Linked DNA regions of Homo sapiens: region 1 is linked to region 2. Evidence: fine-mapped expression QTL. Tissue or cell type: whole blood. Region 2 holds a variant in brackets; the other region holds the start of a gene. All regions are shown on one strand. Distances are from middle to middle.

The links. PIP is the estimated chance that this variant, and not a neighbour inherited with it, causes the effect.
Region 1: it holds the start of RPGRIP1, and the variant in region 2 is the best candidate, but not a certain one, in a credible set for the expression of RPGRIP1 in whole blood (TOPMed, PIP 0.51).

Annotation. Positions count from the first base shown.
Region 1 is chr14:21,277,683-21,283,841 of GRCh38, forward strand. It overlaps RPGRIP1 (RPGR interacting protein 1), which reads left to right and starts at 2,401. Exons shown (of 25, transcript NM_020366.4): 1 at 2,401-2,477.
Region 2 is chr14:21,318,332-21,323,331 of GRCh38, forward strand. It overlaps RPGRIP1 (RPGR interacting protein 1), which reads left to right. Exons shown (of 25, transcript NM_020366.4): 12 at 1,686-1,846; 13 at 2,928-3,071; 14 at 3,523-3,673. Among named protein-coding and RNA genes, the nearest start is that of RPGRIP1, 41 kb to the left of the region's middle. The variant G/A (reference allele first, on the strand shown) is at 2,250.

The DNA.
Region 1 (6,159 bases), 40 kb before region 2:
GGAGTTTTGCTCTTGTTGCCCAGGCTGGAGTGCAATGGTGCAGTCTCGGCTCACTGCAACCTCCGCCTCTGGGGTTCAAGTGATTCTCACTGCCTCAGCCTGGTGAGTAGCTGGGATTACAGGTGCCTGCCACCACGCCCAGCTAATGTTTGTATTTTTAGTAGAGATGGGATTTCACCATGTTGGTCAGGCTGGTCTCGAATTCTTGACCTCAGGTGATCCACCCACCTCAGCCTCCCAAAGTGCTGGGATTGCAGGTGTGAGCCACCGTGCCCGGCCTGAAATTTCTTTAACACAGAACAAAGTCTTACTGTCTACATTGAGAAGTACATTAAGCCTAGTGGAAAAAGTATCACGTAAATTCACTCCAAGATGTAATGAGAATGTTAAGGGAAACTGGTTGCCTGAAAGAGGTAGGAGATGTTTTAAAAATTAACAAAAGTCAGCCGGGAATGGTGGCTCACGCCTGTAATACCAGCACTGTGGGAGGCTAAGGCGGGTGAATCACCTGAGGTCAGGAGGTCAAGACCAGCCAGGCCAACATAGTGAAACCTCATCTCTACTAAAAATACAAAAAATTAGCTGGGTGTGGTGGCGGGTGCCTGTAATCCCAGCCACTAGGGAGACTGAGGCAGGAGAATCTCTTGAACCCGGGAGGCAGAGGTTGCAGTGAGCCAAGATTGTGCCATTGCACACCAGCCTGGGCAACAAGAGCAAAACTCCGTCTCAAAAAAAAAAAAAAAAAAAAATTAACAAAAGTCAGAGGTTCAGAAAAGAGAACACGATTATCAAACACAAACTTGGCTTACTTCAAAATTAATTTTGTCCTGCACTGTCTCTGGCTAGAGCATCTTAAAAAAGGACAGAAAATCCCAGATTTATCAAGAAATAGCTTGGGCAAGAAGCAACCTTAAGTGCATAAAAGCCCAGCTTTTAAATTTTATAAATCTGTCATTTAAACCTGGTAAAATATTATATTGAATTTTCCTCTCTTCACTGGGAAATGTATGTGTCCTGGATACTTTCTCTACTTCCTAATTGTCTCCCTAGCTTTATTTTATTTTATTTTATTTTATTATTTCATGGGATTTAGAGGAAGTCACATGGGGCCCATTAACTATGTGTTCATCCTCCTGGAAATCCCCGAACCTCATGCCAATAACCAGAATGGAGCTTTCTCAATGCACCCATTCAGTGCATTAAAGAGAGGATTTAGGCCAGTCGTGGTGGCTCAGGCCTGTAATCCCAGCACTTTGGGAGGCCAAGGTAGGTGGATCACCTGAGGTCGGGAGTTCGAGACCAGCCTGACCAACATGGAGAAACCTTGTCTCTAGTAAAAATACAAAATTAGCTGGGCGTGGTGGCGCATGCCTGTAATCCCAGCTACTCAGGAGGCTGAGGCAGGAGAATTGCTTGAACCCGGGAGGCAGAGGTTGCAGTGAGCCGAGATCGCACCATTGCACTCCTGCCTAGGTAACAAGAGCGAAACTGCATCTCAAAATAAATAAATAAATAAAGAGGATTTTATGTAACAATTGAGACCGTATTCCACTTAATATATAATATGAATGCAGTGACCAGCCTTGCAGAATTTTTAAGAACATTTAATTTTCTTATATCAAATCCTATTGCTTCATAATTACATCCCAAAGTTTGGTTTCAAAACGGTGGTCACGGTGAAATGGAAGATATACATTCTCTTACTCGAAAGCACTGGCACATGTGGACTGAATAGGCATGTTGATCCCACCAACGGTGCAGTGTTTGTTCTCTTCAAAGGGATCTCAGGGCTTCAGAACAACTCCCACTGTTGTTGCCCTTCAGATAAAGATTTAAAGAATATCGGCCGGGCGCGGTGGCTCAAGCCTGTAATCCCAGCACTTTGGGAGGCCAAGGCGGGCAGATCACCTGAGGTCAGGAGTTCGAGACCAGCCTCAACATTGAGAAACTCCATCTCTACTAAAAATACAAAGTGAGCTGGCTGTGGTGGTGCATGCCTGTAATCCCAGCTACTCGGGAGGCTGAGGCAGGAGAATTGCTTGAACCTGGGAGGCAGAGGTTGCGGTGAGCCGAGATCGCGCCATTGCACTCCAGCCTGGGCAACAAGAGTGAAACTCTGTCTCAAAATAAATAAATAAATAAATAAAAGATTTAAAGATCATCCTCTGAATACCAACAAATTTCTTTTAATCTCAAATCCCGCAAATGTGTTCTCAGCTTTAGTTTTAGTTGAGAAGTGGATCTGTTAAGGACCCTTTAAGCTGCTCTTTCTCCAAGTCAAACATGCATAGAGAAAAAGCACAGCCTTCACACACTCTGATCTACAAAGAGTTAACATCTTAAAAGCTAAACAGAACTGGATTAGCTCCTCTTTTAACAAGCCAGAAGGACAAGCTTATTGGAACCTAGAGTACTAAAGGACACCAGAACATTGAGAGAAAAGAATTAGCGACAGCTATCTGGAGCAAGCAAGAACTGTAAGTTTCTATCTGATGCATATTTATAGTTTCCTATGTCTTCCCTAGGGGTGTTTTTGAGAAGAATGAAATAAGTTTATTCTTTTTTTTTTTTTTTTTTTTGAGACAGAGTCTTACTCTGTCGCCCAGGCTGGAGTGCACCGGCACTATCTCTGCTCACTGCAACCTCTGCCTCCCAGGTTCAAGCGATTCTCCTGCCTCAGCCTCCCAAGTAGCTGGGGACTACAGGCATGCGCCACCATTGCCCGGCTAATTTTTGTGTTTTTAGTAGAGACGGGGTTTCACCATGTTTGCCAGGCTGGTCTTGAACTCCTGACCTCAGGTGATTCACCCGCCTCGGCCTCCCAAAGTGCTGGGATTACTGGCATGAGCCACCGCGCCTGGCCTGGTTTATTCATTTTCTATTGTACCACCAGTCTCCCAGGCATCCAGCACAACATTACCAAGTCATCTTTAATCCTGTCACCCTCTTAACTCTATCTCACGTCCAACCAGTTGTCACATCTTTTGATTCTCCTTCCTCAGTGTCTTCATGATCCATCCTATTCTTCCATCCCCCACCCCCCTCCTTCCCTAGTTCAAGACTTCTTGCCTGAACTATAGCAATATCCTCTTAACACTGTTCTCTCCCCAATTTCCAAATCACTAATAGTAGATGAATCTTCCTAATGCTCTTCCATAGCTCTAATTATATTGCTCTTTTGCTCAGAAATGTATCCACTATCTGCAGAATGAATAAAACTCCTTTTCAAATTAATTAATTTTTAATTGACAATTTGAAATTGTATATATTTATTGTGTAAAATTTGTTGCTTTGAAATATATATATAGAGAGAGTGGAAAATGGCTACCTTGGGCTTTTCTTTTTTTTTTTTTTGAGACAGAATCTCTCTCTCTCGTGAGGCTGGAGTGCAGTGGCTCAATCTCGGCTCACTGCAACCTCTGCCTCCTGGGTTCAAACAATTCTCCTGCCTCAACCTCCCGAGTAGCTGGGACTACAGGTGCGCACCACCATGCCCAGCTAATTTTTGCATTTTTAGTAGAGACAGGGTTTTACCATGTTGGCCACGGCCAGGATGGTCTTGATCTCTTGATCTTGTGATCTGCCCGCCTTGGCCTCCCAAAGTGCTGGGATTACGGGCGTGAGCCACCACACCTGCCCAATCTTGGGCTAATTAAAATATGTATTACCTCATATGCTCATCAATTTTTTGTGTTTGATGAGAACACTTAAAAATCTACTCTTGGCCCAGGCGTGTTGGCTCACACCTGTAATCTCAGCATTTTGGGAGGCTGAGGCGGGTGGATCACTTGAGATCAGGAGTTCAAGACCAGTCTGGCCAACATGGCAAAACCCTGTCTCTACTAAGAATAGAAAAATTAGCTGGGCGTGGCGGCTTGCGCCTGTAATTGCAGCTGCCTGGGGGGCTGAGACATGAGAATTGCTTGAACCCTGGAGGCAGAGGTTGCAGTGAGGCGAGAGCATACCGCTGTACTCCAGCCTGGGCAACAGAGTGAGACCTTGTCTCAAAAAAAAAAAAAATAAATAATAATAATAATAATAATAATAATAATAATCAGAGTAAGGGGAACTGGCTACAAAATTTTAAATGCTTGCCCAGTGATACAGAGTGTAAAAAAGAAAAAAAAGAAGTCTGGGCAGGGTGGCTCATGCCTGTAATCCCAGCACGTTGGGAGACCGAGGCTGGCGGATCCCAAGGTCCGGAGTTCGAGACCAGCCTGGCCAAAATTGTGAAATCTTGTCTCTACTAAAAAATACAAAAAATTAGCTGGGCATGGTGGCAGGTGCCTGTAATCCCAGCTACTCTGGAGGCTGAGACAGGAGAATCGCTTGAACCCGGGAAGCGGAGGTTGCAGTAAACTGAGATTGCAACATTGCACTCCAGCCCAGGCAACAATGTGATACTCTGTCTCGAAAAAAGAGGAAAAGAAAATTTTAATTGCTGATGTCATCAAGCTGGCTTTATACGTCTATCCATCTATCACTAGTAAAGGGTTCTTCACCCTCACTAACCTATACTTGTCCAAGTGCACTGCAATTCTGAATATCACTGCAAGGAAATTTTTTTTTTTTTAAGACGGAGTCTTGCTCTGTCACCCGGCTGGAGTGCAGTGGCGTGATCTCACCTCACTGCAATCTCTGCCTCCCAGGTTCAAGCAATTCCCCTGCCTCAGCCTCCTGAGTACCTGGGACTACAGGCACGCACCACCATGCCTGGCTAATTTTTTTGTATTTTAGTAGAGACGGGGTTTCACTATGTTGACCAGGATGGTCTCGATCTCCTGACCTCATGATCAGCCCGCCTCAGCCTCCCATAGTGCTGGGATTACAGGCGTGAGCCACCACGCCGGGTGGAAGTTTCTTCAGTCTTTCATCCTGTTGAGTTCAAAACAATTGATAAACCCTTTTAGAATCTACATTCCATTTTTTTTTTTTTTTTTTTTTTGAGACAGAGTCTCGCTCTGTCTCCCAGGCTGGAGTGCAGTGGCGTGATCTCGGCTCACAGCAAGCTCCGCCTCCCAGGTTCACGCCATTCTCCTGCCTCAGCCTCCCCAGTAGCTGGGACTACAGGCGCGTGCCACCACACCCGGCTAATTTTTTGTATTTTGTAGTAGAGATGGAGTTTCACCACGTTAGCCAGGATAGTCTTGATCTCCTGACCTTGTGATCCACCCATCTCGGCCTCCCAAAGTGCTGGGATTACAGGCGTGAGCCACTGTGCCCGGCCTACATTCCACTTTTTCATTCCTGAGAAATTAAATCTGGCCACTGGATGTTCAACACGCCTTCACTGACAGTCTCAACTGGCTTTTCTTCTCTAGCATTCCAATAAACTCCATTTCATTCTTAGAGCTTCTGTGACTTCAGTTTTAATGATACTTTTCAATTGCTCCATAGTGCCATATAGCATTGGTGGTGCGTCAATGTGCTCTGGGCCCAGATATTAAGAACAACAGCATCCCTTCTACTACAGCTCCATTTTTGCAAATGGCTTCAGGTCCAGAGGACCAAGCTTATGATGCAGTCACCTTTCCTTTTCCTTCACATTACTTTTCTACAGTAGGAAACTAGGAAGGTGGGTGACTAAGTAAACCTGTAGATGCTACTCTATTTATTTTATTTATTATTATTATTTTTTGAGAAGCTGTCTCACACTGTCGCCCAGGCTGGAGTGCAATGGTGTAATCTTGGCTCACTGCAATCTCCGCCTCCTGTGCTCAAGCGATTCTCCTGCTTCAGCCTCCAGAGCAGCTGGGACTACAGGCATGAGCCACTACACCCAGCTAATTTTTGTATTTTTAGTAGAAATGGGGTTTCGCCATGTTAGCCAGGCTGGTCTCAAACTCCTGACCTTGTGATCTGCCCGCCTCGGCCTCCCAAAGTGCTGGGATTACAGGCATGAGCCACTGTGCCCAGCCCCTATATATGGTACTTCAAATGGAGATTTACTTGTAAACTAAATGCAGATTTACTTTTTTTTTTTTTTTAGACAGAGTCTCACTCTGCTTTGCCCAGGCTGGAGTGGAGTGCAGTGGCACGATCTTGGCTCACTGCAATCTCCACCTGCCGGGTTGAAGCGATTCTCCTGCCTCAGCCTCCCGAGTAGCCGGATTACAGGCGCCTGTCACCATGCCCAGCTAACTTTTGTCATGTGGCTGG
Region 2 (5,000 bases):
GAACTCCTGACCTCAGATGATCCACCAGCCTCAGCTTCCCAAAGTGCTGGGATTACAGGCGTGCGCCACTGTGCCCGACCTGCCAGTTTTTAATTTATTATGTTTTTTAAACGTTCAGTTTATTGAAAGTTTTCTTTTGTTTGGTTTGGTTTGGTTTTGTTTCTGAGAGAGTCTCACTCTGTCACCCAGGCTGGAGTACAGTGATGCGATCTGGGCTCACTTCAACCTCTGCCTCCCAGGTTCAAGAGATTCTCCTGCCTCAGCCTCCCGAGTTGCTGGGATTGCAGGTGCCCACCACCACACCCAACTAATTTTTTGTATATTTTAGTAGAGACGAGGGTTCACTATGTTGGCCAGGCTGGTCTGAAACTAACCTCAAGTGATCCACCCGCCTCAGCCTCCCAAAGTGCTGGGATTACAGGTGAAAGCCACTACACCTGGCTGAAAGTATTGAAAGTGAATTTCTTTGTCTTTTATCCTTCTCATCATTTTAGAGGTAACTGGAATACTTTTTTTTTTTTTTGCCATCCAATTCTTGAAATTGAGTAGCAAATTACTATTCTTGGTTACCACTGCCAGTTCACCCCCGTCTTAACTCTTGGATCTCAGGAGATAGGTATTTGGAACATTTTTAAATACTGTCAAAAAGACCTTCATCTTACTACTTTTTCCTAGCCTGGACCTTAATATTTAGTTTTATCAAATTTATATCTCATCAAGTTTTAGTGTATTCAAATAGGGAACGGAAGGAAAAGAAATGTGTGAAATCAAGAAAAATAGAGGCAAGAACCATGTTTAGGAGCACATGCCAATTAGTATGTTTGAAGCACAAATGAAGTCTTGTAAGGACCTTCAGGGCAATCTAATTTAATCCCTTCTCTAATGCATGATGGAAATGATCTGCTCACTAAACACCGATTACCTTTATTCCCTGAAAAACACACACACAGCCTGGTGTGGTGGCTCATGCCTGTAATCCCAGCACATTGGGAGGCCGAGGCCAGCAGATCACATGAGGCCAGGAGTTTCAGACCAGCCTGGCCAACATGGTGAAACCCCATCTTTACTAAAAACACGAAAATTAGCCAGTCGTAGTGTCGTGCGCCTGTAATACCAGCTACTCAGGAGGCTGAGGCACAAGAATCGTTGAACCCTGGAGGCATAGGTTGCAGGGAGCCAAGATCGCACCACTGCACTCCATCCTGAGTGATGGAGTAAGACTGTCTAAAGAGAAAAACACACACACACACATTGGAACACAGAAATGCCCATCCTCCATCCAGGCCAGGGTGGGTGTGAAGATGGGTGCCACAGAGAGCTAGTAACCTAGAAGTCAGAATGGAGTGGGGGTGGAGTTGGTGAGATACTGGTTTCGATGCTGCTGTCAAAAAGTTTGGATTACCCTAGTCAAGTGATTCCCTTTCTGTTTTGTGTTGTTATTGTTATTCCACTTTCCACTCTACCATTCTGCAGGTGTCTTTTGTTTTCGGAGTGCAAGTAGTATCACCTCAGTTTACTGAGTCAATAAGCTAGAGTCCTCCTCTGTAGAAATAATAGAGAATTGCTTCTCAAATTTATAACATTAATTAAACCTTAGTGGGAAGATTAAATTCACACTTGATCCAACTCTGACCATGGTGATAAATAACTACAGAATTTCACATTTCTGGATTATTTTTCCCCAGCCCAAAATGAGGATCTGAAGCTTGAAGTCACCAACATACTTCAGAAGCATAAACAGGAAGTAGAGCTCCTCCAAAATGCAGCCACAATTTCCCAACCTCCTGACAGGCAATCTGAACCAGCCACTCACCCAGCTGTATTGCAAGAGAACACTCAGATCGAGGTAAGAGCCTCTTTAAACAAACTAGTCCACTCTGCAGAGAGATCTCTGGCAAATATCTCTAGGGAAGATGATGAGATTAGAAAACTAACTAAATAATATTTTGTCCTGACTGAGGACACTCTTTTTTTTTTTGAGACAGAGTCTCGCTGTCGCCCAGGCTGGAGTGCAGTGGCGCGATCTCGGCTCACTGCAGGCTCCGCCCCCTGGGGTTCACGCCGTTCTCCTGCCTCAGCCTTCCGAGTAGCTGGGACTACAGGCACCCGCCACCTCGCCCGGTTAATTTTTTTGTATTTTTAGTAGAGACGGGGTTTCACCGTGTTAGCCAGGATGGTCTCGATCTCCTGACCTCGTGATCCGCCCACCTCGGCCTCCCAAAGTGCTGGGATTACAGGCGTAAGCCACC[G/A]CGCCCGGCCCACTCTTTTTTTTTTTTTTTTTTTTTGAGATGGAGTTTTGCTCTTGTTTCCCAGGCTGGAGTGCAATGGCGCGATCTCGGCTCACTACAGTCTTTGCCTCCCAGGTTTAAGCAATTCTCCTTCCTCAGCCTCCCGAGTAGCTGGGATTACAGGTGCTTGCCACCACAGCCGGCTAATTTTTTGTATTTTTAGTAGAGACAGGGTTTCGCCATTTTGGCCAGGCTGGTCTCGAACTCCTGACCTCTGGTGATCCGCCCAACTCAGCCTCCCAAAGTGCTGGGATTACAGGCACGTGCCACTGTGCCCTGCTTGAGGACACTTTTTGGAAAACTGTGAGAAGGCAGAGCGTAGAGAACTTCATGAGCTCCACCCATTTCTTCCACTCTTTGCAGCTCATAAAATTTAGAATCTTTTTCAGATGAGGACTTGAAAAGATCTGTGGAAGAGCAAACAGCCATTAGTGGCTGTATCATCTCCCTTCACTGCTGCTACTGAACATGAGAACTAGGGGAAAGAGCACTTGTGAAGTCATACAGGTCCTTGTTTACATTTTGGAGTAGTTTCTGCTGCTGGCATTTTACTACTACCAACAACTGTTTTATGGAGAATCATTATTACTTTACCTGTCATATTTATACTCCCTTTTACCAATGCGTTTCCCTCTACAGCCAAGTGAACCCAAAAACCAAGAAGAAAAGAAACTGTCCCAGGTGCTAAATGAGTTGCAAGTATCACACGCAGAGACCACATTGGAACTAGAAAAGACCAGGGACATGCTTATTCTGCAGCGCAAAATCAACGTGTGTTATCAGGTGCAAGGAAAGATGGTACAGGAAGGGGATGGATAACAGGAACGTGGGAACCACTCACAGGACTGGGAATGAAGCAAGACCTAAGTTTCCAGGGCTGATACCAGGTGATGTGCTATCCTGAGCAAACACACAATGGCTGTCCTTTGAAGAACTTGAGGACTCACACATGCCCACGGCACCTTGGCACTAGGAGCCAGTGATGGGGCCAGCCCATGCCAATGGCAAGCGTAAGGCTTCTGGGTTCAAATTTTGCCAGTCCTAGGAACCACCCTACCTCAATGATAGCACAACTAGTCTTGGAGGGGTCTGCAAGGAAATCAAACCTTCTTCTAGTGGGTGAACCTGCCCAGCTAAGGATAGCAGTCTTCTTGACCTAGCCAGTGCCACATTTTTTATGCTCTTTGGTTTTAGGCCACTGAGATAGAAAAGTTCAGACATTATTTTGTTTCAGGAGGAACTGGAGGCAATGATGACAAAAGCTGACAATGATAATAGAGATCACAAAGAAAAGCTGGAGAGGTTGACTCGACTACTAGACCTCAAGAATAACCGTATCAAGCAGCTGGAAGGTATTTTAAGAAGCCATGACCTTCCAACATCTGGCAAGTCTTAGTCCTTTGTTCTCCTCACTTCGGGACCCTTCCACAGCTAACGCCTGTGTTCCACTCTGTGTACTTGTCAAGAAGGGTGCCTCTCATACCCTTAGCATATGACTTATCCTTCTTGTTCTTTATCCTATCATTTTTGTTGTTTTTTTTTGCTTGTTTGCTTTTGAGATGGAGTCTTGCTCTGTCACTCAGGCTGGAGTGCAGTGGTGCGATCTTGGCTCACTGCAACCTCTGCCTTCCAGGTTCAAGCGATTCTCCTGCCTCAGCCTCCCAAGTAGCTGGGATGACAGTTGTCCACCACCATGCCTGGCTAATTTTTTGTATTTTTAGTAGAGATGGGGTTTCACCATGTTGGCCAGGTTGGTCTGGAACTTCTGACCTCAGGTGATCCACCTGCCTCAGCCTCCCAAAGTGATGGGATTACAGGTGCGAGCCACTGCGCCCGGCCCATCTTTGTTGTTTTAATACATGTTAGCAGCTTCTTTCCCTCCATCATGTTTTTCTGATTTCTCTGTAGAGTTTCAAGTGGGCCCAGCAATTGCTTCCAGGGGCTTAATTCTGTTGTGAGAATGAGTATCACTGTTGGCTCTCAGGGTGGTGGTGTAACACACAATCTCTCTCTCTCTCTCTCATTCTTTCTCTCTTGCTCCTCTCCCCTGTCCCTCTCTCCTAGTCACTGTTTCCTCAAAGCAGTTTTAGTCGGATAATAGAACTTCATCACTCATCTCCTGTTATTCTTGTCAGTGATTTCTCTCTTAAAAGCTCTAAAATCTTTGTTGCAATTTGAGGATGCTGACAGTGACAGGGCAGCTGGCTGGACACTGAATGCAAGTTTCATATTGTGGTGCCTCCTATACTTAGTGTAGTCACTGCTGACCAGAGCCTGGTCTCAGGCTTGTTTGTCAAGACACTTGGCTTTGTTATTATACCCAGTGGTGAAAGATCTGACTCACGAAAACCAAATTAACCAGAAGCTGATATTTAAACCCAAATGTTTGTTATTTTACAATAGTGGCTATTCCACTGCTTCCATGAGGAACTTGGAACCACAGTTCAGGGCAGCCCTCTTTCGGGAAGCAAAATCAGTAAGTAGGTTTCTTAGTGAGCATGGAATAGAATAAAGGGACATGGCTGGGCACGGTGGCTCACACCTGTAATCCCAGCACTTTGGGAGGACGAGGCGGGCGGATTGCCTGAGGTCAGGAGTTCGAGACCAGCCTGACCAACATGGTGAAACCCCATCGCTACTAAAAATAGAACAATTAGCTGGGCATGGTGGCGGGCACCTGTAACCCCAGATACTTAGGAGGCTGAGACAGGA